2 separate regions of the Homo sapiens genome follow, and region 2 is linked to region 1. The links come from fine-mapping of genetic effects on gene expression. A gene starts in region 1. The other region holds a variant in brackets. All regions are shown on one strand. Distances are from middle to middle.

Region 1 (2,901 bases):
AGCTAATATCCTACTCCTCCCAGTTTCTTCACCACCAAGTCTACTAATTTTCCAAAAACACAAGGTTAGCCCGAAGTTACTTCAGGTTTTCCATCTGTCAAGACGACGTAGAATAAAAATCCTCAGATTACCAACAGATCTCTGTAAACAGAAAAAGTTTAAAAATAAATGAGCTGTACAGCTTCCCAGACTCTCCCTTGAAAGGGAGATTAGTTGGTATCAGGATTAAACAGATCTTTGTAGTATTTCAATTTCCCACTCCCGCTGATCCGGACACTCATTTGTCCCATCTACCTGCAGAGAAGGTACAGGAAAGGGGTTGCAAGGGCACGCCCACCCTCCCGACTGCAAGCGGAGGGAAGGCCGCAGCCCGAAGCTGGCGGAGCTGGGCCGGCCCGGGCGACCCCCGGGTGGGCTCACCCGGCAGCCGCAGTGGGGCCCGCGAGCGCCCCCGCCGGCCCAGCTGATGGAGGCCACGTGACGCCAGCCGGCCAATCGGGAGGGACCGGGGCGGCAGAGCGCGGCGGCGGCGGTGGCGGCGGGGCCTCCCTCGGCACAACAAACACGAGCAGGAAACAGCTGAGCGGGTGGCCGGGGGGCTCTCTTGGTCCCGACACCCGGCGGGCTGCCCAACCGTCACCCTGCGCTGTCAGTCCCGGGTCCTCTGGGCAGGAGGGCGGGGGAGGCGGACGTTCATGGGGGGGAGGGGGCAAAGGGAGACACCGCCCCAGCCCGGTGGCTGGGCCGCTTGGGCCGGGCGTGGGCCCTGCTCAGGACGGTTCACGCCGTGCGGTCATCGCGGCCCAAACAACTCGGTCAAGTTCCGACTTGGATTCGGGGCGGAGACCGGGCGCGCCCCCGACTATGCGACGGGTGGGGGCGGGGCAGCCGCGGCGCGGCGCGGCGGGTTGGGGGTCGCGGCCAGACCGTCCGCCCAGGGGGCGCCGTGGGCCTCGGCGGCGGGCCTCGGAGGACGCGACGGGGAAACGGGGCGGAGGCGCGGGCGCCGCGCGGAGGGGTTGCGGCTGTTGTCGCACCGGTCGCCCGGCTGCGCGGCGGGGGCGGGCCGACGGCGGCCGCCGCGCCAGGCCTCACAAAGAGCAAACAGCCCCGCGCGTCCGCCCGCGGTCCCAGCGCCGGGGCCCACCCTGAAGGATCTGGGGCGGCCGCTCTGGGACCCCGGGAAGAGCGCGGCGAGGAAGAGGCACTTCCTGCCTGGGCCCCCCACCCTGGGCCGATTCCCGAGTGCCTCGAAGCCGCCCGACCCGAACGGGCGCCTCAGTCCCCACCGGCCCCGAGTCCAGCCCCTCCCGCGGGACTCACCCTGAGCGGCGGTGAGATCCGCGGCTGCCAGCGGCTTGTCGCTCTTCAGCTGGTATGAAGCCCCTCGGCCACCCGAGTCTCCAGGTTTAGTCAGGCCCTGGCCTTGGCCCCGCCTCTCCCTGGTTGGGCCTCAACGTCAGTCACCCGGCGTGGCTCCGCCCCCCCGCAGTCAGCTCTCCCGGTTGGCCCAGAACGCCCTTTATTTCTAGGCCCCGCCCCTGTCCTCGGCCTCCTGCCTTTTTCGCGGGGCCCCGCCCCTTCTCTGGCTCACCCTCCCCCACTCCCGCACCCCTCCGCTTCGCGGCCCACCCCTCTCAGAAGCCGCAGACCCAGGGCAGGCTTGCGACAGCTCGCCCCGCCCCTGACCCAGCACCTCGGACTCGTACAGCCAATCAAAGAGGCTAACTCTGCCCCTTCTCTCGAGGCGGCCAATGTAGTCAGTCTGGGGACCCACCTCCCCCTTTCAGCTGAGCGCACACAACACAGCATCCACGTGAGTCAGCTTCTTAAAGGCGAAGGCTTGGCCTGTCTAATTGCGGCAGCTGCGAGACATCGCACGTCATTAGCGTCACCAGGTAGCGGCTGGAGCCGAGCTTCCTGATACCTAGTGAGCCGCGGTGATGACAAATGAAAACAATAAGCTGTTTCCTAGACAAACAGCTGCCTAGGTAACTAAAGTGCACCGTGTAATTCGTTTCTTGGAGGCCGTTTCCCCGACCACCCCTGGTAGAGGGCTGCCTTTTGCTTTCAAACCCCTAGCCCTCGAGTCTAAGCGCATAGGCACTCCTAAGAAACATCTGTGGATACAGGATTTTTCAACTGCGCTTGACTTTATTTACAACTCATTTGAATGTTTTTTCTGGGTAGTGGAAATGATTCTCAAAAAGATGAAGAAATTCAGTCTTCTATATGGCGAATTTCTGCCTCAGAGAGTGAGATTTGTTCATTGCAAAGAGCAGCTGTTCCCTTAACCCTTATCAATGCTTAAGATGGAAGATGTTGCTTCTCATTCCATTAGAGTTGCCCAGGTACTTACATCTCTGTTAGCTGACTTTCGGGATAAAACCAAAATATTTGATGACGCATACCTCTCAGATTAAAAATGTAGGTTAGCATTTGGGGCTAGTTTGCAACATGTTTAAAGTCATTATTGGTGGAAGAGAAGCTGCTAAGCAAATTCTAGCACTTGACTCCCGCTCATCCCCAAATCCACAAGTATTTTCATTTAGTTCGTCTGAAGTTTACCTGAGCATCAAAGGCAAAAGGACTAGTTATCTTTTAATAAGTGAGTTTTCCAGGAGATAAGTTTTTTTGTTTGTTTGTTTCAGACGGAGTCTTGCTCTGTCGCCCAGGCTCGAGTGCAGTGGCATGATCTTGGCTCACTGCAACCTCCGCCTCCCGGGTTCAAGCAATTCTCCTGCCTCTGCCTCCTGAGTAGCTGGAATTACAGGCGCACACCACCACGCCCGGCTAATTTTTGTATTTTTAGTAGAGACGGGGTTTCACCATATTGGCCAGGTTGGTCTCGAACTCCTGACCTCGTGATCCGCCCGCCTCGGCCTCCTGAAGTGCTGGGAT
Region 2 (2,901 bases), 77 kb before region 1:
GGAGCCCCTGGTGTACTTCACACCCACATGGCGCCCAGCCTCAGGATCAGATAGCTGGGTCCATGTTACACCCTCCTGCCCTCTCAACAACAATTCTAACAGGCATTAGCACCCACTGTGTGCCAGACAGGTGCTGGCATTTCCAAAGAATCGGTTTAGGAGACGTTTAGTTTTCTCCTGTCTCCATAACTCCCTGTAACCATCCCAGATAACCACAGTCTGTGTGATGGTATTATGCCTGCAAGGTCACTGCACCTGTAAGACAAATTCCCTAAACTGCATTAATGATCCCCTCAAAGAATCACAAAACTAAGGCCGCGCACGGTGGCTCACGCCTGTAATCCCAGCACTTTGGGAGGCAGAGGTGGGCGGATCACCTGAGGTCAGGAGTTCGAGATCAGCCTGGCCAACATGGTGAAACCCCATCTCTACTAAAAATACAAAACTTAGCCAGGCGTGGTGTTGGGTGCCTGTAATCCCAGCTACTCTGGGAGGCTGAGGCAGGGAGAATCGCTTCAACCCGGGAGGCAGAGGTTGCAGTGAGCTGAGATCGCACCATTGCACTCCAGCCTGGGCAACGGAGCAAAACTGTCTCAAAAAAAAAAACAAAAACAAAAACAAACAAACACAAAACTAAGTAGAACGGTCACACATGCTAGCAAGTGCATTTTGCAGGTAAGTCTCCTAGCCTCTGCCCTTCCTATGCAAATTGCTACCCCTGAGTTTCTTTTTTAAAGAAGTGAGAGTCTACCTCTGGTGTTGGCAAGGTGTTGGGCACTGGGGTGTCTGGGAACCTAGTTGCCACTCCCTCTAATATCATACAATAACTGCTGCAGTAGACTCATGTGAGCATGGGTGGGGATATGATTAGTTCAGTCCCAGGCAAAGGCACTGGGAGAGGGGGGCTGACTGGCAGAAGGGAAGCTCTCAAGGGCAAGGAGTAGGTCTGTTTTGTGTCTTACTGTGTCACCACCACCAGAAGAGTGCCTGGAATCTAGCAGGCACTCAGGGAATATCTGTGGAAAGAATGGTAGCAGGAATAGCTAAAGGGAAGGGATGGCAACTGAGCTGGCCTCAAAGGATGGGGAGAAGCTAGAGAAGGGCGATCCTGCCAGCAGAACAACATCAGCAAAGGTGTAGGGGTCAGAAAGGGCCAGGTGTGTCCCAGGAACTAGGGGTGGGCAGCAGCATTATCTATTCCAGACCTTGGGAGAGGCACTCCCATGACTCCAAGTCTACATGCTGAAGGGAATAACTATTTGTGAGTAAAAGGCCTCATGCTCTGCGGAAGGGACTGTGCACACAATTTCTAGCAGAAAGAAAAGTCTGTTACTTCCATTAGCCAAATCAGTCCAGGTTCCTTCACCTCTATGTTATTCGAGTTAATATCAGCGTTTCTCTTCCAGCCAGGTGGGGCCTCAGCAGAAGTGTTAAGTAGGTCAAATTTCATGTATGTGAAATTTGTCTTTTGAGACTTCCCCTTTCTAACCCCTCTTGTTTCACACTTC[C/T]CTTCAATGCGCCCCAGGCACCCACTGAACTCAGGAAGCCCCACACTCCCTTCATAACAGCCTCCCAAGCTCCAAAACCACTCTTTGCTTTTCCACTGAAACTTCCATCCTGCAGCTCTCTAAGCCAAGGCAGCTGCCAGGCAAGAGAACTTGATCTGACAAATGAATTCACACTATTGTGAGAATGACATGCAGGCAGCACCTCAAAGGCCTCAGTTTCATGGTGGCACTGCAGACAGGGTAAGTGGGTGACAGGAAAGTCTCTGGTCCTGGAGGCAAATTGATGGTTGATGGTTGAAGCCCAGGGGGAAACCATGTCATGATGAGAGAGAGAGGGGGAACCACCTGGAAGGGCTGGGGTGGGTGCATCCAGTGGGCACAGTATGAGGTGACTTTCCTTGTCCATCACAGTCCTTCTGGAGGGATCTGATTGGAATTCTTGTCCCTAGATCTAATATGATCATAGCACTTGAGCTGTTTAACTCAGAAGAGGGGAAAAAAGATCTGGGCATACCATTTCTTTCCTTCCTCCCTTCCTTCCTTCTTTCCTTCCTCCCTCCCTTCCTTCCTTCCTTCCTTCCTTCCTTCCTTCCTTCCTTCCTTCCTTCCTTCCAAGGGACAGAGCTTTAGACTAAGGGGACCCGGGCACTCAGCATCCCTGCCCAGGGGTGTAAGTCCTGTGTGAGTCTGAGCAAAAGCCAGGACAAGTAATGACAGCAGAAAGACATTTCCACACGCTTGGTGAGGCCTCGGGGTAGCTTACATGCAGGGTTTCAGAGCCCAGTGAGCAGCCAGTGTGGCACGTTTTGGCCTCAGGCAGAGCCAGTGGCCCTACTGCCCCCAGCTACTGAAGATGGCGGGGCAACTGGCCACCACACCTCCCACCCTCACCAAGGGCCCTGGGTGGGTGAATTCAGAGGCACAGCCAGGTAGGAACCTTGGCTTGCACTCTCCTGAGTGAGTGCCTGGCTTTCTTGTGCATTCTCATCCAGGCCTCCTCTTAGAAAGGAGCACCAGAAAGACAGAAGGTGATGCATCTGAAGCTGTTTTCTGATCTTCTTCTTTAATGTCCATGATATTATTACTGCAAAAAGCTAGAATGTTCTGTGTGTTTGAGTCTTCCCAGGGGTAGGGGGGACCTTCCCCACTCCTAGCCACCTGATTATTTTATCTGGGATGGTTGCAGGTTGTACCAATAAAAGTGCTGACCCACTTGGCTTCCACTTCCACCCTAGAGAGGGCCCCTTCATACACCCTCACCAGCATTAGTCTCATTTTACTGCCTTCATCTCCAGGACCCTAAGCCTCCACAATGCTTAGTAATTTCTCTATTTAAAAAGAAGAAAGTAAATGGATTACACACCAGATATGATGCTGCAGGCATTCTTAATAA

Evidence for each region. PIP is the estimated chance that this variant, and not a neighbour inherited with it, causes the effect. A credible set is the group of variants that fine-mapping cannot tell apart.
Region 2: its variant is the best candidate, but not a certain one, in a credible set for the expression of YPEL5 in whole blood (TOPMed, PIP 0.61).

Annotation. Positions count from the first base shown.
Region 1 is chr2:30,145,485-30,148,385 of GRCh38, reverse strand. YPEL5 (yippee like 5) reads right to left here and starts at 1,379. Exons shown (of 3, transcript NM_016061.3): 1 at 1,324-1,379. RefSeq lists silencers at 266-705, 996-1,165, 1,196-1,775.
Region 2 is chr2:30,222,310-30,225,210 of GRCh38, reverse strand. No RefSeq gene overlaps it. Among named protein-coding and RNA genes, the nearest start is that of LBH, 7.8 kb to the left of the region's middle. RefSeq lists an enhancer at 787-856 and a silencer at 1,377-1,436. The variant C/T (reference allele first, on the strand shown) is at 1,509.